Linked DNA regions of Homo sapiens. The protein of the gene in region 3 purifies or fractionates together with the protein of the main gene of each other region. This does not show direct contact. Each region holds a gene or a part of one and is shown on either strand. Other genes may lie near its edges. The genes, in order: KPNA4, LIN28A, NCBP1, DDX3X, EIF3B, THOC3 and UPF3B.

Region 1 (3,500 bases), on a different chromosome or scaffold from region 3:
GTTCACAACTCAGTTGCACAAGTACTTTTTCCTTGAGACAGTCGTCCTTAAGTAGAAGTTGGTATGCAGCAGAAGTGGCTTATATGTAATCTTCATTTTTTTCACACAATTAGAAAAGGCCAATATTTAATAAAAGTAATCATTTTTTACTGTTTCCTCAAGGAATTCTTAAGTGAGCTGACTTTTAAACAAATTTTAGATGTGAAATCAGTGACAACTATTGCATCTTGATGTCATTACCTTAATTCATTCTAAAGCACCAGCAGTCTTACCCCTATGGCATCAATTCAAGTGTTAATACAATTTTTTTTTTAAAAAAAGTATTAGTATTATCATTAGGAAAATAGTTTTGACCCTGTGTACTCTCTGTAAAGGTCTCAGGACCCACATAGGGGCCCGTGGACCATGCTTTGAGTGCCACTCTTTTAGTTTACCATTGCTTCTTTTGCACATGAGTGTCACTTTTAATTAATACAGGCTCTTAAAGGACCTTATAGTATAGGGGTTAAAAGACATGGACTGTAGAGTCACTTAGGTCTGGGTTTGAACTCTGGTTTCTCCACTTAGTAATTATGGAGGCTAACTTAATTATGTCTAAGCCTTTGAAATGTTTAACAATGCCTAGCATAAAGTACATGCAGAGTAAATGGAACCTCTTACTATTTCTGCCAACTTACATAGTCATACATTGCATCCAAGTAAACCCCTATGTTCCATATCAGAATAACATTTTGCTTACAAAATTCCTCTTGTACCTCTGTGTGCCATAATCCAAACCACATCATACAAATTTGGGAAGGCTTCTTATTCCCCTTATTTAACAGTCACCTGAAAACCTACTTTCTCCCACATACTTCAGCCAAATTGTCACATACATACTAGTTTATGACTTCATTTCTTTAATCCTATGTTTTAAGTGGGTTACTAAATGCTTTATGTAGATTTTGTCACTGTTTTCTCAAAACATTGTAAATATAATCAGAAAACAACTATAATTCACACTATTTAGTACCCAGAATGAAAATGATTTAAGGTCATAGATATTTGTTGGTAATACAAGATTAAGTTGATTATTAAAGATGCTAAACTTTCCCAGGCACAGTGGCTCATGCCTGTAATCCTATTGCTTTGAGAGGCTGAGGCAGGAGGATTGCTTGATACTGGGAGTTTGAGACCATCCTAGGCAATATGGTGAGACCTTGTCTCTACAAAAAAATAAAAATAAAAAATTTAGCTGGATGTGGTGGCACACACCTGTAGTCATACCTATTTAGGAGGCTGAGGCAGGAGGATCGCTTGAGCCCAGAAAGTGGAGGCTGCAATGAACTATGACCATGCCACTGCACTCCAGCCTGGGTGACAAGAATGAGGTCTCATCTCAGATAGATAGAAATTTTTAAATGCTGACTTATTTTCTATTACTGTTTATTTACTATTCGGACAAAATTTAGTCACCTGTCATTTTTTCCCTAAATTTTTATTTACTTTAAACTTAATGTAAATTAGATTTTAACTAATGATGTATTTTGACAAACATGGAATTTCATGAATTTTTTTACTAACAAAAGTCGGAATCCTAAGATAGTATGTTTTTTACTAGTTCAGTGATGGACATATTGTCTAATATTAGAAGGTAAATCATAGTCTATCTCAGTGTCCTGTTCTTTAATAAAAACTTTAGTTTGCACATATCTACTCTTTATGTTTTTTAAAGTATGTCTTTCTGGACCCTTGAGGTAAGTGTTACATAAATTTATTTAGTTGAGTAGTTTTATCCCGAAAGACCTATGTTAAGTGGTCTCTGCTTGGTTGTATTAAATGGCCCTGTCCTGTTTGCCACCTGTTCTTCCTCTTCACACTGGCTTTTTAGCCACTTTAAGCTGTTACTGGTCCAGAAAAACAAGCAAGATAATACCTTAAGGTTTTCAAATAATTGTTAACATCACTCCTTGTTCTTTAGTAGGTGTGAAACCCAAATATTCTCCAGCTCTTTTTAAAATAGTGCAGAGGATTTGGTTCCTTGAGGCCGGGAGTTTGAGACCATCCTAGGCAGTATAGTGAGACCTCATCTCTACAAAAAATAAAAAATTTAGCTGGGTGTGGTGGCACACACCTATAGTCCTACCTATTTAGGGTAGGTTTGGTTCCTTATTTCACTTTTGAATATTATGTGGAGATGTTCATTTTACTACAGATATATCTATAGAATTGGGTTCATTGTTGATCAGCTGTTTCAGACACCTTAAATTTGTTCACGTTTTTTCTCTTAATGTTGTGAATAATTTTTCCCAATTCCCTTTTTATTCTCCAGCTTTAAAACAATGACAGTACAGGTTGAGCGTCCAAATCCAAAAATCTGAAATCCACAATGCTCCAAAATCTGAAACTTTAAGCACCTACGTGATGCTTAAAGGAAACACTCATTGGAGCATACCAGATTTTGGATTAGGGATGCTCAGTCTCTAAGTATTATGCAAACATTCTAAAATCCAAAAAAATCCAAAATCTGAAACACTTGTGTTCCCAAGCATTTCACATAAGGGATACTCAATGATGAAAAGTTTAATTAAGACCAATAAACAAATAAAAAATAGGATCCGCCTCATTAGTCATTAGGGAAACACAGCTCTAAAGCATGATGAGATACCACTTTACACCCACTAGGATGGCAGTATATAAAAAGAAAATAACAGGTGTTGGTGAGGATGTGGAGAAAGTGGAACCCTCATACATGCCTGATGGGAATGTAAAATGGTACGGCTGCTTTGGAATGCAGTTTGGCAGTTCCTCAAAAAGTTAAACAGTTAACATGTGACCCAGCAGTTCTACTAATTAGATATAAATCCAGGAGAATTGCAAACATAATGTCTGCACAAAAACTTGTAAATGAGTGTTCATAGCAGCATTATCCATAACAGCCAAAAGAGGGAAACAACTTGGCTGGGCGCAGTGGCTCACGCCTGTAATCCCAAGCACTTTGGGAGGCCAAGGCGGGCCGGATCACCTGAGGTTGGGAGTTGGGAAACCAGCACTACCAACATGGAGAAACCCCGTCTCTACTAAAAATACAAAATTAGCCAGGCATGGTGGCGCATGCCTGTGATCCCAGCTACCTGGGAGGCTGAGGCAGGAGAATCACTTGAACCCAGGAGGTGGAGGTTGCAGTGAGCTGAGATCGGGCCATTACACTCCAGCCTGGGCAACAAAAGCAAAACTCCTTCTCAAAAATAATAAATAAATATAAATAATTTAAATAAATAAAATAAAAGAAGGAAACAACCCAAATACCCATTAACTGATGAATGCACAAAGTATGGTATATGCATACAATGGAGTATTGTTCCGCTATAAAATGAAGTATAATAGTTCACCCTTATCTGCAGTTTTAGTTACCTGCAGTCAACTGTGATCAGAAACTAGGTGAATATGTGATACAACAAGATATTAATATTTAGAGAGAAAGAGATCCCACATTCACATGACTTTTCTTACAATATATT
Region 2 (3,500 bases), on a different chromosome or scaffold from region 3:
CTGAAACCTCTGCCTCCGGGGTTCAAGCAACTCTCCTGCCCCAACTGCCCAAGTAGCTGGGATTACAGGCGCCCACCACCACACCCGGCTAATTTTTGTATTTTTAGTAGAGACAGGGTTTCACCATGTTGGCCAGGCTGGTCTCGAACTCTGGACCTCGTGATCCACCTGCTTCAGCCTCCCAAAGTGCTGGGGTTAAAGGCGTAAGCCACCGTGTGTGGCTGAGCCACCATGCCCAGCTATTTTTACTTTTATTTTATTTATTTATTTTTGAGACGAAGTCTTGCTGTGTTGCCCAGGCTGGAGTGCAAAGGCGCCATCTTGGCTCACTGCAACCTCTATAGTGTGACACTTTAAATTTCGTAATTTTATATTTGTTGATTTCTTCCAAATGCTTGTATTTACAAATTTTTCTGTTTGTTGTTGTTTGTTTGTTTGTTTTTGAGACAAAGTCTCACTCTGTCGCCCAGGCTGGAGTGCAATAGTGTGATCTCAGCTCACTGCAACCTTTGCTTCCTGGGTTCAAGCAATTCTCCTGCCTCAGTCTCCCAAGTAGCTGGGATTACAGGTGCCCGCCACCACGCCCAGCTAATTTTTTTTATTTTTAGTAGAGACAGAGTTTCACCATGTTGGCCAAGCTGGTCTCGAACTCCTGACTTCAGGTGATCCTCCCGCCTCAGCCTCTCAAAGTGCTAGGATTATAGGTGTGAGCCACCGTACCCGGCCCTCTGTTCTATTTTATTAAGAACTTTAAACCTGAATAGCTACAAAAATGTCATGGCATCTGCTTATATAATTACGATTTTTGTTAATGTACTGGTAGACTTTGTTGTTCTTAATCGTAGTGACTCTTTGAGTCAGTTTCCTTACCAGTAAAATAGGAGTACCATCACATTTGATTCCTACCCTACAGGAATAAGAGTTCCTTGTCTTTTGGTATAATAATGGAAATTAATGTTAAAATTTACTGCATTTCCCTTCACCAGAGTAAGCTGCACATGGAAGGGTTCCGGAGCTTGAAGGAGGGTGAGGCAGTGGAGTTCACCTTTAAGAAGTCAGCCAAGGGTCTGGAATCCATCCGTGTCACCGGACCTGGTGGAGTATTCTGTATTGGGAGTGAGAGGCGGCCAAAAGGAAAGAGCATGCAGAAGCGCAGATCAAAAGGAGACAGGTATGGATTGGAAGGCAGCTTATATAGGTTGCTAAGGGCATCCCCAGTCTCCCAATCCTGTCACTTTTTGGGTCACACTGCAAAAGACAAAGGGAAGCCTGTGGTCCCTGGCAGCATCTGGAAGGCTGAGCGCCTGCAATAGGTGTGGGCAAGGGCAGTAGGTGAGGAGGCCACTGGGGGTGACTTAGTGCTACTTGGGACAAGTAAGTTTGCTCTGTGGTCTCTAAGCCTCAATTGTTAAGTGAGGCAGTGATACTAACATCCTAGGATGGTTTTAGAATTAAAGGAGATCATAGATTTGCAAATGGTGGGACAAGACAGTATTATCTATATCTGTTGCTGCTTTACCAGGTCTGCAAATGGCTGGTTTCCTTAATCTTGCTTGGGCTTAAAGCCCCTTAGCTCTGAACAGATACTATAATTTGGCTTCTTTAATTTCTCCTATATTAAGGGTATGGAAGAATCTCTCCTATCCCCCAAGTTGCAGTTCCTAGTTGGGGTCAGTAACTTATATTTCTGGTATCTTGGTATTTTCAAGTTGACATGAATCTGAAGAGATCACCTAGACAATTAGATGTGGAAAGGACTTAGAGATCATTTAGTAATAGTCCTCCTTTTGCAAGTGGGAAGTTTGGTCTCTGGGAAGGGAAGTAAGTGACAAACCTGTACCAGAGCCCAGGTGTCCTCATTCGTGGGAGGCATCTGGCCTCTTCTTGCTCCTTTCTCTTACTTTTACGATCTTGCTTTGTACTAGGTGCTACAACTGTGGAGGTCTAGATCATCATGCCAAGGAATGCAAGCTGCCACCCCAGCCCAAGAAGTGCCACTTCTGCCAGAGCATCAGCCATATGGTAGCCTCATGTCCGCTGAAGGCCCAGCAGGGCCCTAGTGCACAGGGAAAGCCAACCTACTTTCGAGAGGAAGAAGAAGAAATCCACAGCCCTACCCTGCTCCCGGAGGCACAGAATTGAGCCACAATGGGTGGGGGCTATTCTTTTGCTATCAGGAAGTTTTGAGGAGCAGGCAGAGTGGAGAAAGTGGGAATAGGGTGCATTGGGGCTAGTTGGCACTGCCATGTATCTCAGGCTTGGGTTCACACCATCACCCTTTCTTCCCTCTAGGTGGGGGGAAAGGGTGAGTCAAAGGAACTCCAACCATGCTCTGTCCAAATGCAAGTGAGGGTTCTGGGGGCAACCAGGAGGGGGGAATCACCCTACAACCTGCATACTTTGAGTCTCCATCCCCAGAATTTCCAGCTTTTGAAAGTGGCCTGGATAGGGAAGTTGTTTTCCTTTTAAAGAAGGATATATAATAATTCCCATGCCAGAGTGAAATGATTAAGTATAAGACCAGATTCATGGAGCCAAGCCACTACATTCTGTGGAAGGAGATCTCTCAGGAGTAAGCATTGTTTTTTTTTCACATCTTGTATCCTCATACCCACTTTTGGGATAGGGTGCTGGCAGCTGTCCCAAGCAATGGGTAATGATGATGGCAAAAAGGGTGTTTGGGGGAACAGCTGCAGACCTGCTGCTCTATGCTCACCCCCGCCCCATTCTGGGCCAATGTGATTTTATTTATTTGCTCCCTTGGATACTGCACCTTGGGTCCCACTTTCTCCAGGATGCCAACTGCACTAGCTGTGTGCGAATGACGTATCTTGTGCATTTTAACTTTTTTTCCTTAATATAAATATTCTGGTTTTGTATTTTTGTATATTTTAATCTAAGGCCCTCATTTCCTGCACTGTGTTCTCAGGTACATGAGCAATCTCAGGGATAGCCAGCAGCAGCTCCAGGTCTGCGCAGCAGGAATTACTTTTTGTTGTTTTTGCCACCGTGGAGAGCAACTATTTGGAGTGCACAGCCTATTGAACTACCTCATTTTTGCCAATAAGAGCTGGCTTTTCTGCCATAGTGTCCTCTTGAAACCCCCTCTGCCTTGAAAATGTTTTATGGGAGACTAGGTTTTAACTGGGTGGCCCCATGACTTGATTGCCTTCTACTGGAAGATTGGGAATTAGTCTAAACAGGAAATGGTGGTACACAGAGGCTAGGAGAGGCTGGGCCCGGTGAAAAGGCCAGAGAGCAAGCCAAGATTAGGTGAGGGTTGTCTAATCCTATGGCACAGGACGTGCTTTACATCTCCAGATCTGTTCTTCACCAGATTAGGTTAGGCCTACCATGTGCCACAGGGTGTGTGTGTGTTTGTAAAACTAGAGTTGCTAAGGATAAGTTTAAAGACCAATACCCCTGTACTTAATCCTGTGCTGTCGAGGGATGGATATATGAAGTAAGGTGAGATCCTTAACCTTTCAAAATTTTCGGGT
Region 3 (3,500 bases):
TTGACCTGCATCTTGATGATACACAGTACATTATCAAAACAGTTGATATCTGCCACTCCAGTAGGTAAAATGTTATTTCATTGCTTTAATTTGCATTTTAATAACTGTGAGGGTGACTGAGCATCTCTTGTTTTTAAAAGCCTAAATGTAGATTTTCATTTTTATCTTTAGAAGACGCCAAAAGACTCATGTACCCATGTTACAGGTATGGACTGCTGATAAACCACATCCACAAGAAGAGGTAAATGGATTTCAGTCCCTTGTGATACAAACACAGTCAGCTCTTGAATAGATTCTTATCTCTGTAAGATACTCAGACCATTCCATTTTACCCTTTGACTGTGTTTCTACATTTCATGATAGTTCCTTCTCATAGCTCAAGGTGTATGGTAGGTCTTTAATAGATGATAGAATGTAATTGAAATATTCCCTTGTTCTTTGGAATGCCAGCTATTACAGAGTTGACATATATTTATTTAAATGCTTAATTTGAAAAATGTCAAAACAGACAGTTCCAAACAGGTAGACTTTGTAAGTAAAATAAAAACAAAAACTTAGCACCTTTTTTTGTACCATCTTACAAGTTAGCTTACTTTTGTATCCTGTATTTTAAAGGGTAGTGATTTTTTCATTTTGTCTAGTCAAAATGTTAATTATATTAATGATTAAAAATTAATCTGTCTTTAGTATTTAGATTGCCTGTGGGCCCAGATTCAGAAATTGAAAAAGGATCGCTGGCAGGAACGGCACATCCTAAGACCTTATCTTGCCTTTGACAGCATCCTGTGTGAAGCACTGCAGCACAATCTGCCTCCTTTTACACCACCTCCTCACACTGAAGATTCAGTGTACCCAATGCCAAGGGTCATCTTCAGAATGTTTGATTACACAGATGATCCCGAGGTAAGTGACCGACTAAAAGTCCTAGATATTGACCTGTGTTGCATTGTGCTTGTGGGTTAATCCCGCTTGAATTATGCCTGTGGTATGTTTTAATTTTGAGTTGTTTTTATCTAAGAAGGTCAGTAGCAATGAAGTTAACTTTTTAATTCAGTGAATGATATCACCTCATTATGCAAGAAATTATATTTGGCATGTGTAAATAGATTACAGAGACGTGCACAGTTTGCAGGCTAAGAGTGTGGGTTTTGGGTTTTTAGAGCTACGTTGGTTTGTGTTTTAATCTTGGTTTAGCCAAATACTAGCTGTGTTAATTTGGGAAGGTTATTTACCTCCCTGTGCTTTCATTTCCTGAAGGTAATAATAATAGTATACATCTCATAATAGTAGTATATATCTCATGTTATGAGGATTAAATTATTCACATGTAAAATGCATAGAACAAGAACAGTGTCTGTCACATGATGAATGCTCAGTCATTCTGGCAATTTTTCTTTCTTATTTTTTTCTTTTCGAAATGGGGTCTTACTTTGTTGCCCAGGCTGCAGGTGAGATCTAAGCTCACTGCAACCTCTGCCTCCTGTGCTCAAGCGATCCTTCCACTTCAGCCTCCTGAGTAGCTGGGACCACAGGCATGTGTCACCTAGCCTGGCAAATTTTTTGTAGAGTTGAGATTTCGCCATGTTGCCCTGGTTGGTCTCAAACTCCTGGGCTCAAGCAATTCGTCCGCTTCGTTTTCCCAAAGTGTTGGGCTTACAGGCATGAGCCACTGCACCTGTCCATAATTATACTTAATAAGGTTATTTCTCAGTAAAAGTACCTAGTTTTAGGTATGGTCCCTCTCTAGGCAACACAGCCTGTCTTGTGATTATTCATATTGTATGATTATTTGAAAACAAATGTTGGAAGTATTTTTAATTAAAAAATTCCAAAGATTAGTCTAAGCTGACTTTATCATTTTTAATATACATGTTCTTTATTTCAAAGTCAAGTTTCCTGGCAGCCATTGTACTGTTATAATTGTATATTGTACAATTAAGAAAATTTATAATTTTCATTGTGGGTACTATCCTGTGTATTGTAAGATGCTCAGCGGTGTCCCTGATCTCTACCCTCTAAATGTCAATAGCACTCTCCCTGCCTCAGTTTTGACAACCAAAAATATCTCCAGAGAGTGCAATATGTCCCCTCAAGAGCAAAATTGCCCCCAGTTGAAAACTATTGCCATAAAAATTAATATTACCACCTAAGTCAAATTTGAGTTTCTTCTATTGTCTCTTTTCTGTTCTATGGTAAAGTGCTAATGACCAGTAGGAATTTAGTATATATGTAATCTATTTTGGAATAAAAATTTCTCAGATAATCAGTTACATATACAAAATTATCAGCTTGCTGCCGTCTTTGCTATATTCCATATGTAACCAAATACTTTAGTCAAAATTATGTAATGATCTACTTAGATATGTCTAACTGAAAATCTGGTTTACATTTAAGACTGCTAATGTTTGTGGTCGGGTATTTTTTTTTTTTTGTGCAGGGGAAACTAGAATGGGACCTCAAAATTTGTTTCTCCTGAATTTGTATTTAATTGGTATCACCTCTGTAAGGTGCATATCCATCCCTTGCTAGAAGAGTATAAATATATAAAATACATATTACTCCCAAAACGAACAGGATTTTGTTTCTGTTCTGGCCTTTTACAAGTTGTTTATTAAAAAACATTAGAAATTGTAAAAAAAAGATTAGAATCATCCAAAAGTCATTATTAAAGGTTTATTTTGTGTGTTTTGAACCTGTTTGCTATGAATATACTTAAGAATAAAATAATGCCATGTAGGGAATATGTTTTGAGCTTAGACAGTATATTATGGGCATTTTTCAATTCATGCATGACTTTTTATGGCTATGTGGTGTTTGAATAGAATTTTCTCTCTGCATAGTTATTAATGGAAATAATTCACTCTCGGTTTAAAAAATAAACTCTGTAAGACTTGTATTATCCAAAATTATTTAGTTTCATATAATAATTGGTGTGTAAAGTAGGCAGTGGTTGTATGGTTAGGTATGAGATGTGGTAGAAAAAACACTACAGCTGATACTCTGGGGTATAAGTGAACATGACAATGGAATTTCCTGAAATATAGAGCTTTAACACTTCAGAACTTTTATCCCCATCACCCAGTTTAGTGCTTGGAACATAATAGTCTCTCAAATATTTGTTGAATAAGTAAAAGAAATCTGTTTTCTAGGCCTGTAGTGTACACATTTGGTTTTCTTTCCAGGGTCCTGTCATGCCAGGGAGTCATTCAGTGGAAAGATTTGTAATAGAAGAGAATCTTCACTGCATCATTAAGTCCCACTGGAAGGAAAGGAAGACTTGGTAAGATTCTTTTCATGGTACTTTTAGAAGGGAGAGAAGCAGCAATTTTGATAATTCAGTAAGAGCAAAATATATGTTGAGAGTGTAAGAAAATTTTATCCTCCTGACTCCCTGTCTTGCTAAAATCAATTTCTAAAAACACTTGCTTTACTTTCTCAAGGCTCTTCACCCTTGTATAGTACTTTTCGAGGTGCTTTATAGTAATAAGCGTATGATGCCA
Region 4 (3,306 bases), on a different chromosome or scaffold from region 3:
TACAGATTAACACTACCTCCACCAAATCCTCTGCTGCTACCGTGGCCACCTCCGCCACTGCGGCTGCTGCTTGCGCGGCTGCTGCTGAAGCTGGAACTGCTGGCACCGCTACTTTGTCGGTAGTCTCTGGCACCAAACCCTCCACTAAATCTGCTACTATAAGAAAAAAATTATGTTGGTTCACATGAAGATGAAATTCCACTAAAGTAACCTAACTCTTTCCTAATGACCAATTTCTAATTTTTCCATTCAAACAATTCCCCATCCAGCCATATTTTCCCCAACAGAGTGTCACCCATTCTAATACAACCCCTTACCAAAGAATCTAGGAAGCCTAAGATGATTAAGCTTTTTAAATACTGTACAGTTAACCTTGGACGTTATGCATGCAGAGGAAACACTATGAACTGTAAGTGAACACCCATTCCCCTCATTATATACTATTTATACCTCACCTCTTAGAACGTCCACGACTGCTACCCTTGTAGTGGTGTTCATAAGCCATGTTTTCTAACCAAGACGGCACTTCTTGTTTAGCTTCAACAAGAAGATCCAACAAATCCTTAGTAATATTTATGTTCCTCTCGTTAAAGAATGAGGTTGCCAGGCCTAAAAGAGTTCCCAAAAAAGTATATAAACAAAGGTCTTCCATAAAGTAACTTGCTACTATTCTTACTTTCCTACGTAGAAATATTTAAAATATTACCACGTAATATTTAAACAAGTGCTTTGAGCAAAATCTTTGTCACTTTCATTGTTAAAAATGTATTTTAGATCCTAGCAAGTTCTTTCCTGCACACATCACAGCAAAAAACAATGAAACCATCAAGTAATCAAATACTTACCAAGGTTTCCTACACGTCCCGTACGACCAATACGATGTACATATTCTTCAATATCACTTGGCAAGTCAAAATTGATAACATGTTTCACATTTGAAATGTCCAGTCCTCTTGCTGCTACCTGGAAAATAACTTTTATGAGATATGGCCCACTTAAAAGAAAACAAATACTTGAACATGCTCAATTTGAATAAAAGAAAGATGTTTATACATACTGCTGTAGCCACTAAAATTGGGCTTTTTCCTGAGCGGAACTGGTGAAGGGCCTCTTCTCTATCCCTCTGAGAACGGTCTCCATGGATGCTGGTACATGCGTATCCTTCATGGTATAAGAAATCCTCCAGAGAATCTGCACCCTTTTTGGTCTCCACAAACACTAAGGTCAGTGAATCCTTGCCTGTCGTTGAAAAATTATAGGTTTTTGTCACTAACATGGCTTAGTTCTCTTTGCACTTATGTATGCACAATTTTAATGTGTCAATTAAAATACATATATATCTTCTTAAAAACGGGCTTTCAACACAGCATGTTTTGAATTGAGGAGGAAAAGTAATAAAGGTAATCCAAATACATTTAAGAGATGGGGGTCTCACTAAATTGCCCAGGCTGAGAGTGCACTGGCCATTCGCAGGTGCAATCATGGCATACTACAGCCTCAGCCTGCCAAGTAGCTGGGACTACATGCACTGTACCACTGCACCCAGCCCAAATGGGTTATTACCAGAGCAATTAAATTATTCATAATTTTAGCTGGGTGCAGTGGTGAGTGCCTGTAGTCCCAGCTACTCTGGAGACTGAGGCAGGAGGATTGTCTAAGTCTAGGAGTTCTGGGCTGTAGTGTACTATGCCTATCAGGTGTCCACACTAAGTTTGGCATCAACATGGTAACCTCCCGGAAGCAAGGGAGCACCAGGTTGCCTAAGGAGGGGTGAACAGGCCCAGGTCAGAAACAGAGCAGGTCAAATACTCCCATGCTGATCAGTAATGAGATCACACCTGTGAATAACCCCTGCACTCCAGCCTGGGCAACAAAGAGAAACCCCCATGTCTAATAAAATAAAAAATTCATAATGTTACCTGTTGCATTTAGGAGGTCAAGCAGAAATGACCGTTTGTCTGATTCTTCCACCCAAACTACTTTCTGTGTGATGTTTTCAGAGGTAGAGCCAACTCTTCCTACAGCCAAGAAGATATATTCATCTAAGAAATCACGAGCCAGCATCTGAAAGAAAAAAAATTTTTATTATTACCTGAGATAAACAAATTTCTAAATAAATAAAATTTGCAACATCAAACAGTACCTGTATTTCCTTAGGAAAAGTAGCACTAAACATCATAGTGTGGCGGACACCCTTTGGAGGCATAGTATCTTGTTCGACTATTCTACGAATCTGAGGCTCAAACCCCATATCCAACATCCGATCAGCTTCATCTAACACCAAGTATCTGTCATGTCATGAAAAAAAACAAGCCTGAGTTTAGAATTTGAGGAGAAATCAACATGGTTTTAGTATGGCTGTTAGTATAATTACAAATACAATTGTATAGGTTATTACAATTATATATTCATTAAGATGGTGCCTCACACTGCATAATTTTACAGACACAGCACAGGATTCTTGCCACTACATAAGTCATTCAAGATTACACAGTCAAATTAGCCCATCCTAGTTGACTGTCCCACGAGCTGATCATTGTTGTAAGTCTCAACCAAGATGTTACTGATTTTTCAACATTAAAATTACCATGAACAAGCTTTTTGTGAAAGTTAGATGTCTGAAATACATCACTTCTCAGCCTTAACATTTAGACAATGTTAACATCACCACAAAACTAATGGGCAGTAACTTTAATACTGCATCCCATACATTTAAAAATTAACATACTTGGCCGGGTGCGATGGCTCACACCTGTAATCCCAGCACTTTGGGAGGCCAAGGCAGGCGGATCACCTGAGGTCAGGAGTTCGAGACCAGCCTGACCAACATGGAGAAACCCCGCCTCTACTAAAAATACAAAAATTAGCCCAGCGTGGTGGCACATGCCTGTAATCCCAGCTACCTGGGAGGCTGAGGCAGGAGAATCGCTTGAACCCGGGAGGCAGAGGTTGTGGTGAGCCGAGATCGCGCCATGGCACTCCAGCCTGGGCAACAAGAGCGCAACTCTGCCAAAAACAAAAGAACAAAACAAAACAAAACAAAAAAACAAAAACAAAATAAAACATACTTGCAAAAGTCTAATCCAATCTTTCCTCTTTCCATCATATCCACTAGACGTCCTGGAGTGGCTACTAACAAATGGCATCCACGTTCCAAGTCTCGAATCTGCTGACCAATATCGGCACCACCATAAACCACGCAAGGACGAACTCTAGATCGGTATGAAAACTATAAGCAAAAAAAATGTTATGAACTTCAAGGTCAAAATTTTTACATGTTCATAAAACATTTAATTAGAATCAATG
Region 5 (3,500 bases), on a different chromosome or scaffold from region 3:
GGAGTGGGATGCCAGGAGGTATGCGTCTCCATGAAGCCTGACGGTCCTGTCTGTCTTTGCAGTATGAACGGTGCCTTAGCGTTTGTGGACACTTCGGACTGCACGGTCATGAACATCGCAGAGCACTACATGGCTTCCGACGTCGAATGGGATCCTACTGGGCGCTACGTCGTCACCTCTGTGTCCTGGTGGAGCCATAAGGTGCAGGCCTGTGGGGCATAGTTTTGACTGTGGATAGAAGCAGGGAGTGCTGGCTAGCTGCTGACTCTGGTGCTGTCCTGGGACCTCAGGGAAGGGGCACCAAGCCTCTGTGTTGAACAGAAGCCTTGGCTGGTGTTAGTGGCAGGAGGAGGAGGATTCTGGGTTGTAGAAGAGGTGGCGCCGAGTGCAGGAGCAGCCCCTGCTCATGGTTGCGGGGAGGTGGGGGGTCTTACCCTGGGCCCAGGGACCCCTGAAAAGGAGTGAGAATGTCTGCAGAGAGGAGTCGTTTCCTTTGAAGTCTGAACAGAGTTCCATAACCGCAGACATTAAGATCTGTTTTGGGGTCAGTGGTTGAGTCCAGCTGCCGCGTTACCCACAACTCGTATTCCAAAACTGCTGGTTAAGTTTGTCAAGGACTTTCAGTATTTAGTGACTTGTAAAAACATTGATGGAGGCACTGATACTTGAACTAGTCCATGCCAATAGAGCCTGTGAAACCAAACGCGGGTAATTTTGTTTAATGAGATACAGAATTTGTAGGAATATCAACTTCCCAAATGTTACTGCAAGTGTCTAGAGTTAGAAATCTTCGCATTCGAATCAGGATATGTTGATCACAGCCTGTGTCCAGGTATGTTCAGATGTCACTGCGGTGGGGCCTGCCTTGACACTTGAAATCACTTTAGGCCAGGCACAGTGGCTCACACCTGTAATCCCAGCACTTCAGGAGGCAGAGGTAGAAAAATCACTTGAACCCAGGAGTTTGAGACTAGCCTGAGCAACATAGCGAAACCCTAGCCCCATTAAAAAAAAAAAAAAAAAAAAGACTTTTTAAGCTGTTGACCACTCTCCTTGAGTTATGAACACTTAGCTTCCAAAATGCCGGCCTGCAACAAGGAGTTTATGCTGAGTGCCAGTGAAGGCGCCCTCCTTCATGAGAGAGGCCTGCCATGAGGAGAGCGGAACTAGGCGGCGTGTAGTGATGCAGTTAGCTTACATCCAGCACAGGGCTCCGCACAGCTCACACCCGGCCCAGGGCTCAGCAGTGAGTAGTGCTATGCAGTTAGCTTACGTTTGGCACAGGGTTCAGTCCAGTTTAAATCCAGCACGGGGTTCAGCGGCGCAGTAGTGAGGCAGTTAGCTTACATCCAGCATGGGGTTCTTATTGCCAGCCAGAATGTGCAGGCCTGTGCTGTGATGAGCGCTGCTCCAGCTGCTCCGTGCCCCGCACTCCGGGTCGGTTGCATAATGGAGGTGTCTTGCATTGACTGCCCACCTACCCTGCTGTCAGCTCAGCACAGGCAGAGCTTTGTTTGCTTCACACGTGTCCCCGATACCCAGGACCTTGTTCAGCAAGTGACATAGTCACGGTTGTGGCTCTCTGACCCCTCTGTGTCCTGGTGTGTCCCTGCCCTGGCCTAGGTGGACAACGCGTACTGGCTGTGGACTTTCCAGGGACGCCTCCTGCAGAAGAACAACAAGGACCGCTTCTGCCAGCTGCTGTGGCGGCCCCGGCCTCCCACACTCCTGAGCCAGGAACAGATCAAGGTCAGCATGCCCCCACCCCCGGGTGCAGGGCACATGGAGGCAATTGTGGCGTTGAAAAGGTGTCAGTTTTTTCTGTTATTGTTAGGGTGGTGACTGGGGGATAAAAACGTGACATTTGCAAGGATTCTTTGAAGAGACGCAGGAACAGTGAGAACTGAATGGAATAGAACAGCTTTAGGATAGTAACTTGAGGCTTTCAGCTTCTTTAGGGAAGTTTTGCATGAACCCGAGGGGTGGATAAAAAGATGCCAGGGCCATTAAAAAGTCCTGCTGGGATTAGAAGCGGCTTGTCTGGGATTTACATTATTGTGGTAAAATAGGCCGTTGGTCTTAGGTCAGAGCAAAGAGGAGGGTTAAATCCCAGGGAGAAAGTCCGTCTCAAAGTGAAAGATGGAGGAAGGAGCAGGCACGAGCGCTCCTGGGATGCTGTGTTGTGTGAATGACCCTGGGTGTCAAGGAGGAAGGAGCAGGCACGAGCGCTCCTGGGATGCTGTGTTCTGTGAATGACCCTGGGTGTCATGGAGGAAGGAGCAGGCGCGAGCTCTCCTGGGAATCCGTGTTCTGTGAATGACCCTGGGTGTCAAGGAGGAAGGAGCAGGCGCGAGCGCTCCTGGGATGCTGTGTTCTGTGAATGACCCTGGGTGTCATGGAGGAAGGAGCAGGCGCGAGCGCTCCTGGGATGCTGTGTTCTGTGAATGACCCTGGGTGTCATGGAGGAAGGAGCAGGCGCGAGCTCTCCTGGGAATCCGTGTTCTGTGAATGACCCTGGGTGTCAAGGAGGAAGGAGCAGGCGCGAGCGCTCCTGGGAAGCCGTGTTGTGTGAATGACCCTGGGTGTCGAGGAAGGAGAAGGCGCGAGCACTGCTGGGATGCCGTGTTCTGTGAATGACCCTGGGTGTCATGGAGGAAGGAGCAGGCGCGAGCTCTCCTGGGATGCTGTGTTCTGTGAATGACCCTGGGTGTCATGGAGGAAGGAGCAGGCACGAGCGCTCCTGGGATGCTGTGTTCTGTGAATGACCCTGGGTGTCATGGAGGAAGGAGCAGGCGCGAGCTCTCCTGGGAATCCGTGTTCTGTGAATGACCCTGGGTGTCAAGGAGGAAGGAGCAGGCGCGAGCGCTCCTGGGAAGCCGTGTTGTGTGAATGACCCTGGGTGTCGAGGAAGGAGAAGGCGCGAGCACTGCTGGGATGCTGTGTTGTGTGAATGACCCTCGGTGTCATGGAGGAAGGAACAGGCGAGCGTTCCTGGGATGCTGTGTTGTGTGAATGACCCTTGGTGTCATGGAGGAAGGAACAGGCGAGCGCTCCTGGGATGCTGTGTTGTGTGAATGACCCTGGGTGTCATGGAGGAAGGAGCAGGCGCGAGCGCTCCTGGGAAGCTGTGTTGTGTGAATGACCCTGGGTGTCATGGAGGAAGGAGCAGGCGCGAGTGCTGCTGGGAAGCTGTGTTGTGTGAATGACCCTGGGTGTCATGGAGAAAGGAGCATGCGAGCGCTCCTGGGAAGCTGTGTTCTGTGAATGGCTTTGGGTGTCATGTCATGTTGGCAACTCTGAAGATTGCATTTGTGCTTGTTGCTTTGAATGTTAAATCCTGAGTGATGGGTCTTTTGTTTCAGCAAATTAAAAAGGATCTGAAGAAATACTCTAAGATCTTTGAACAGAAGGATCGTTTGAGTCAGTCCAAAGCCTCAAAGGTGAGCCTCATTCCCAAAATGAGGGCTGTGCTGTGACATCCGCCATCATGGCAAAGGCGG
Region 6 (3,142 bases), on a different chromosome or scaffold from region 3:
AGCAGCAGTAATATTGTTGTTCTGAGACATCTATATGTTTACCATGGGAGATAGGTAATAAGTAACCATCGGATATTCTAATTCTATGATCCCCTGTGCCCTTGAGAACCAGAATACTCAATTTGGGAGGAAAGAAATATATTTGTAATATAGAAGAGGTTTAGTAAAATCCCTGGAGTCCTCAATTTTGATTGCAAGTTATCAACATGAATTCATAAGGTATTTTATCTTTAAATATATATATATATACACACACACACACACACACACGTAATTCCTAGGCCAACCCAGCAGTAATGAACATTCCTAACTTCAGTATCATTTCTCAGTAAAAGAATGTAAGGCTCCTTTTTTTTTTTTTTTTTTGAGGTGGAATCTCACTCAGTCGTCCAGAATGCTGGAGTGCAGTGGTGCAATCTAAACTTACTACAACCTCCGCCTCCCGGGTTCAAGCGATTCTCCTGCCTCAGTCTGCCAAGCAGCTGGGAATATACACGTGCGTCACCACGCCCAGATAATTTTTGTATTTTGAGTAGAGACAGGGTTTCTCTATGATTGCCAGGTCTCAAGTGATCCACTCGCCTCGGCCTCCCAAAGTGCCAAAGTGCTGGGATTACAGGCGTGAGCCACCGCACCCAGCCAGAATGTTAAGGCTTCTTGGAGAATGTTCTGATTAAAGGTCTGGGGCAAGAAATGCACAAGATGAACTTGGAACATCTTATCAAACCAGAGAGCAAAAAAACAGAAGACGATGGGATTATGTCAAAAAAGGTCTCAGGAACCAACTTGAAGAGGTTCTTATTGGCCAAAGATGGGATAATTTGAGCTTCAACAGGCGTAACAATTACAAGAGATGGAAACACACCAACTATGTTTAAAAACATCAGCCCGTAATGATTCTTTAAAAAAAAAACACCTAACTGCTCATCTTTGGAGGTAGCAGGAAACAAAATCATTATCTGACAAACAGAATCAAAATTTTATCCTGCCTTCCCTACATGAACTACACTACTGGGTAACCAAATCGCAGATGAGAAGCAGCATCTCTTTACACAACAGTCCAACACATAAACAGCATATGGAATCAGCAAAAGCCAAACTGGGAGAATCTCCACAGGTTAACAGTCTGGTTTTTCAACAGCTACGTTTTCGGAAGTTTCTTTTGAGTAATTTAAGAGATACAAAAGACATATCAATTTTTTTTTTTTTTAATGAGCAAAACTAGGGTATCTAGGGGCTGCACATGTGGTAGATAAACTATGAAGAAACACTATAAAAGTCAGGATAGTGTTTGCTTTTGTGGAAGGAAGTTGTAATTAGGACAAATCACCTGGATGGACTTCTGGGATGGCTGGAAAGAACTACTTCTCAACTTGGGCGGGGTTGCACAAGAGTTAAGCCTATAAGAGTTCATTAAGCTATACATTTATTTTATGTGGTTTTCAATATCTGTGTTTTATAATAAAAAGATTTTTCTTAAAAAGTTATAGAATCCCCATTGCCTACAAAATAAAACCCAAGATACTAAGCATAAAATAAAGGCCTTTTATAATCTGGTCCCAAATTAGACTTCATCTTCCCATTATCATGCCCTCTCTTATTTCCCTTATCTGCCACCACTCCCCCAACAACCCTGACCTAACCACTCTCCAAGTAAGTCATGCTCACTCACACCTGCTTTGTCAGTTATGTGGTTCCCTTTTGCTTATTCTTAAAATTCTGCTCATCTTTCAAGATCAAGCTCACAAGCTCCCTCCTTCAACCCCCCATATAGTATGTCTGTTCTTTCCGTGGAATTTCACAGCAAACTCCTGGCCTCCCACTCACAGAACCTATCTCACTTGGTCTTGCATTGTTCACCTGGGATAGTGGAAGGCTAGAATTGAACAGACCTGAATTTCAGCTCCACAGTTTCATTCATTTACAGAACAAATATTTACTAAGATCCTACTACGTGGAGCAGGTACAGGACTAGACATTAGGGACTCAACACTAAACAAGGCAAACACCATCCCTACCATCAAGGAATTCACAGTCTAACAGGAGACACAGGCAAATAAACATGCAATTACAATATAGAAAGAAAAGTGCTTCCTACAGAAAGTATATAAAATACGCCTCTAACCTACCTCTAACCTTGGGGTAGCGGGGGAGCTTCCCTGAAGGCAAAGTGATATTTCAGTTGAAACTTTAAGAGTACGAATTAGCCAGAGGTCGGGCTAATCACCTGAGGTCGGGAGTTGGAGACCAGCCTGACCAACATGGAGAAACCCTAAACTACAAAAAATACAAAATTAGCCAGGTGTGGTGGCACATGCCTCTAATCCCAGCTACTTGGGAGGCTGAGGCAGGAGAATCGCTTAACCTCGGAGGCAGAGGTTGCGGTGAGCCAAGATCACACCATTGCACTGCAGCCTGGGCAACAAGAGCAAAACTCTGTCTCGAAAAACAAAAAAAAAGGGAGTACGAATTAGCCATAATTCAAGGTGCATCCAGTTCTAGCACACACTAGCTGACTACTGATGTAACCTCTCACCCTCAGATCCTCATCTGTCAAATGAGAAGCAAATCATCAACCCCTAGAATTTCTGTAAGGACTCAGTAAAATATAAAGTATATAAAATATACAGCTCAAATGTACTTAAGACAGGTTAGGATTCTCTCTTACTATTTGTGTTTTAAGCTCCTTCAGGATAGGCTCACATCTAATTCATCTCCATATCTGACACAGCACCCAGCACAAAGACATGACAGTCCCCTAAGCTAGACCCCCTCACCTGAGGATGTTGATACAACCATTGCCATTTGTCAGGAAGAACATATTATTGTCATTGTTCCAGGAGATTTCGTTGACCTCGAACTTGAACTGCTCTTCTGCTTTGGAACGGTGTGTCTTGGCATCAATAAAGGTCACCACATCATCCTTGTTGCCTACAGCAATGGTCTGCCCATCAGGACTCCAGCAGATATTAATGTTCTCCCCTGGGAACCCAGACATAATCAGCAAGATAATCTGTTTGCTCATAATCTTCCACAAGTTTATTGCACTATCCTAGAAAGAAGACCAGAGCTTTCTTCCGGGCTTACTCATTAAAGTCCTAGACAATGGAAGGGAGCTACCACTTATGATTCAACAATAAGT
Region 7 (3,500 bases), on a different chromosome or scaffold from region 3:
CTCCGCCTCCCAGGTTCAAGTGATTCTCCTGCCTCAGTCTCCCAAGTAGCTGGGATTACAGGCGTGCACTATCACGCCTGGCTAATTTTTGTATTTTTATTTATTTTTATTTTTATGTATTTATTTTTTTGAGACGGAGTCTTACTCTGTCGCCCAGGCTGGAGTGCAGTGGCATGATCTCGGCTCACTGCAATCTCTGCCTCCTGGGTTCAAGTGATTCTCATGCCTCAGCCTCCAGAGTAGCTGGGATTGCAGGCACGTGCCACCACGCCCAGCTAATTTTTGTATTTTTAGTAGAGACAGTGTTTCACCATGTTGGCCAGGCAGGTCTCAAACTTCTGACCTCAGGTGATCCTCTCATCTCGGCCTCCCAAAATGCTGGGATTATAGGCATAAGCCACGGTGCCCAGCCCAACGTGATAATTTTATATATGTATACATTATGAAATGTATACATTATGAAATGTATACATATTGTATACATATATACATTATGAAATGTATACATAATGTATACATATATACATTATGAAATATATACAATCAAGTTAACACATTCATCACCTCACATAACACATCACCTCAAATAGTTACACTTTTAAAAAATAACAGCTTTATTGAGATATAATTCACATGCCTGAAATAGTCACCCTTTTAAAGTATACAGTTCAGTGAATTTTAGTATATTCATAGGCTTATGAGCCTATCACCACAATCTAAATTTAGAACATGTTCATCACCCCTAAGAGAAACCCCACCCATTAGTTGTCACTCCTCATTCTTCTCACCACTTCTACCCCAAACTCCAGGCAGCTACTACTCTACGTTCTGTCTCTATAGATTTGCCTATTTTGGAGATTTCTAACATTTTAAAATGAAAAATAGTTTGTAGGGTCTTTTTCACATTAAAATATCACATTTTATAAGTTGAATTTATATGAATATTTTACTTTCATGCCGTGTTGTTTCACTATGTTATCAGTGTGAATTTGTGGCTCCTTTTGTAGTATGTTGATTATGGTTGTGCCAGTGTGCTTTATGCCTTTGGGAGACCCTCTTCAGATGACTGCCATCAAAAGAGTCATAGAAAGCAATGGGTTGATTCCCTTATATCCACTTTTGACATTTTCTTTGTTATAGCAAGTGTGGTATTTTTTTTCTAAACAGGTCAGGAATATCCCGCTATAGTAGAATTTGCACCTTTTCAAAAAGCTGCAAAAAAGAAGACTAAGAAAAGAGATACCAAAGTCGGGACTATCGATGATGGTACAGTATAGCTCTAATTATATAATGCTATTGCTGTGGGGTTTTTAAAAATAATATCTTTGTGAGAGTTAATTCGACCCCAAAATTTTAAATTAGAAAATATACAAAATAAAGTAAGTGAGAAATGTTATTTGCCGATGGAAGCTTTGCTTAATTGTTAGACTAGAGAGAGTTTCTTGCACAGAATCTCTGCTCTCTTTGGCTAGGGCATTTCATTCTTCAACCATTGAACAATATAATGTTGACTATTGAGTAACAAATCACCATAGGTTTATTGATTAGAAGATAGTGGAAAGGCCAGGCGTGGTGGCTCACGCCTATAATCCCAGTACTTTGGGAGGCCAAGGCGGGCGGATCATCTGAGGTCAGGAGTTTGATACCAGCCTGACCAACATGGAGAAACCCTGTCTCTACTAAAAATATAAAATTAGCCGGGTATGGTGGTGCATGCCTGTAATCCCAGCTATTCGGGAGGCTGAGGCAGGAGAATCTCTTGAACCCAGGAGGCGGAGGTTGCAGTGAGCTGAGATCACACCATTGCACTCCAGCCTGGGCAACAAGAGCGAAACTCCATCTCAAAAAAAAAAGAAAAAGAAAATAGTGGAAAAAAATCAGGTTTCAAAGTTTAACAGGTGCTTCTTGAGGCCTCACCATTTTTATGATTATTTATTTGACTTTTGGTTTCCATTATATTTATAAAGAAGAAGGTTTGAACTGTCATGGGAAAATTTCCATACCCAGGTAACTTTGTATAAAGTAGCTGAAGTTGTCACTCCTATTTTCTGGTCTTTGGATATACAATTAGCTACACACATAGTATTAGGTTGAACAGGAATAGAAGAACTGAGGCCAGGCGCGGTGGCTCACTCCTATAATCCCAGCACTTTGGGAGGCCAAGGCGGGCAGAGTTGCTGAGGTCAGGAGTTCGAGACCAGCCTGGCCAACATGGTGACACCCCATCTCTACTAAAAACACAAAAATTAGCTAGGCATGGTGGCGGGCACCTGTAATCCCAGCTGCTTGGGAAGCTGAGGCAGAAGAATCACTTGAACCCGGGAGGCGGAGGTTGCAGTGAGCTGAGACCGCACCATTGCACTCCAGCCTGGACAACAAAAGCAAAACTCCGTCTCAAAAAAAAAGAAAGAAAGAAAGAAATACAAGAACTGAAAAACCAAAATAATTGCCATTTAAGGTACACTGGCTCCAGATTTTGAGACCTCTGTAATGTTATGTTAGATAGCTGTTACACAACTCTTTATGTTGGATAAGGACTAGGACCATATTTTATATCAGATTGTTACTTTAGAATCATCTAGTTTAATTTCCATCATTTGTTACTATTACAGGTATTTTATAAAGAAAACACGGTAAGGACTCAATAACACATAGCTGTGATACTGGTTTTATTACAGATTTAGATCTGGAAGACTTGATCAAGTGACACATAGAAACAAGCAATATAATGGCTTAGATGTGTCACCCTTTCTGATGTTAGAGGTCTAGGAGAGAACTCCAGGAATTCCCATCACCTCAAGTGCCACATCTAGGACTTCTCTCTAATTTATCTTTTTGGAACACCTAACTTAGTTTAGTAGGACAGTGACTTTTAAAAGCAAACTATGTAATACCCCTAGTGGTTCTGTTATAATGCATGGCGTCTCATTTTTCCTGACCCCATGTTATACCAGATTCCTATAGTGAGTATCAGTGATAGGAGTCCTGAGAGCAAGTGACCAATTAAGCTCTAAATAGTCTACCTTGTGGGTATGGTTTGGTTTTTTTTAATCTTCCACGAAGTAAAAAATTATCTTCTTTGATAAATCAGTATTGTAGATAATGTCTTCTTTTTTTGTTTAAAGTCTATTATATTTTCTGTTTCCTCAAATGATTATTTAGATCCAGAATATAGAAAGTTTTTGGAAAGTTATGCCACAGATAATGAGAAAATGACATCTACTCCAGAGACACTGCTAGAGGAAATAGAAGCAAAAAATAGAGAATTAATAGGTAAGTGGGCAAAAAGAATCAGGGCAACAGTCTTTTCATCACAGTACCTAAGTCTCCTACCTCCATCAGTTGCTAGCTGTGTGACTTCAGGGAAGTTACTAGTTTCTCTGAGACTGTTACTGTAAATTGCAGATGGTAATACCTGCCTCACAGCATTATGAGAATCCATTAAAGTGGGAAAAATTCTTTGACCTATTTAGTTTCACACAAATGTAATATAAATACAA

Evidence for each region.
Region 1: the proteins of NCBP1 (region 3) and KPNA4 purify together in Homo sapiens (co-immunoprecipitation; 3 studies listed by BioGRID and IntAct, with this or other methods). This does not show direct contact.
Region 2: the proteins of NCBP1 (region 3) and LIN28A purify together in Homo sapiens (affinity purification with mass spectrometry; 3 studies listed by BioGRID and IntAct, with this or other methods). This does not show direct contact.
Region 4: the proteins of NCBP1 (region 3) and DDX3X purify together in Homo sapiens (co-immunoprecipitation; 2 studies listed by BioGRID and IntAct, with this or other methods). This does not show direct contact.
Region 5: the proteins of NCBP1 (region 3) and EIF3B purify together in Homo sapiens (affinity purification with western blotting; 2 studies listed by BioGRID and IntAct, with this or other methods). This does not show direct contact.
Region 6: the proteins of NCBP1 (region 3) and THOC3 purify together in Homo sapiens (affinity purification with western blotting; 2 studies listed by BioGRID, with this or other methods). This does not show direct contact.
Region 7: the proteins of NCBP1 (region 3) and UPF3B purify together in Homo sapiens (affinity purification with western blotting; 2 studies listed by BioGRID and IntAct, with this or other methods). This does not show direct contact.

What each region holds. Positions count from the first base shown.
Region 1 is NC_000003.12:160,555,572-160,559,071, reverse strand, and holds part of KPNA4 (importin subunit alpha-3), read left to right. Parts: intron 1-3,500. UniProt on the Homo sapiens protein: Functions in nuclear protein import as an adapter protein for nuclear receptor KPNB1. Binds specifically and directly to substrates containing either a simple or bipartite NLS motif.
Region 2 is NC_000001.11:26,424,317-26,427,816, forward strand, and holds part of LIN28A (protein lin-28 homolog A), read left to right. Parts: intron 1-986; coding exon 987-1,171; intron 1,172-1,925; coding exon 1,926-2,142; 3' UTR 2,143-3,500. UniProt on the Homo sapiens protein: RNA-binding protein that inhibits processing of pre-let-7 miRNAs and regulates translation of mRNAs that control developmental timing, pluripotency and metabolism.
Region 3 is NC_000009.12:97,647,321-97,650,820, forward strand, and holds part of NCBP1 (nuclear cap-binding protein subunit 1), read left to right. Parts: intron 1-171; coding exon 172-241; intron 242-687; coding exon 688-903; intron 904-3,182; coding exon 3,183-3,280; intron 3,281-3,500. UniProt on the Homo sapiens protein: Component of the cap-binding complex (CBC), which binds cotranscriptionally to the 5'-cap of pre-mRNAs and is involved in various processes such as pre-mRNA splicing, translation regulation, nonsense-mediated mRNA decay, RNA-mediated gene silencing (RNAi) by microRNAs (miRNAs) and mRNA export.
Region 4 is NC_000023.11:41,344,162-41,347,467, reverse strand, and holds part of DDX3X (ATP-dependent RNA helicase DDX3X), read right to left. Parts: intron 3,230-3,306; coding exon 3,069-3,229; intron 2,289-3,068; coding exon 2,144-2,288; intron 2,065-2,143; coding exon 1,920-2,064; intron 1,240-1,919; coding exon 1,058-1,239; intron 964-1,057; coding exon 846-963; intron 610-845; coding exon 456-609; intron 157-455; coding exon 17-156; intron 1-16. UniProt on the Homo sapiens protein: Multifunctional ATP-dependent RNA helicase. The ATPase activity can be stimulated by various ribo-and deoxynucleic acids indicative for a relaxed substrate specificity.
Region 5 is NC_000007.14:2,375,327-2,378,826, forward strand, and holds part of EIF3B (eukaryotic translation initiation factor 3 subunit B), read left to right. Parts: intron 1-62; coding exon 63-201; intron 202-1,623; coding exon 1,624-1,749; intron 1,750-3,362; coding exon 3,363-3,440; intron 3,441-3,500.
Region 6 is NC_000005.10:175,962,174-175,965,315, forward strand, and holds part of THOC3 (THO complex subunit 3), read right to left. Parts: intron 2,983-3,142; coding exon 2,778-2,982; intron 1-2,777. UniProt on the Homo sapiens protein: Component of the THO subcomplex of the TREX complex which is thought to couple mRNA transcription, processing and nuclear export, and which specifically associates with spliced mRNA and not with unspliced pre-mRNA.
Region 7 is NC_000023.11:119,842,964-119,846,463, reverse strand, and holds part of UPF3B (regulator of nonsense transcripts 3B), read left to right. Parts: intron 1-1,167; coding exon 1,168-1,266; intron 1,267-3,162; coding exon 3,163-3,273; intron 3,274-3,500. UniProt on the Homo sapiens protein: Involved in nonsense-mediated decay (NMD) of mRNAs containing premature stop codons by associating with the nuclear exon junction complex (EJC) and serving as link between the EJC core and NMD machinery.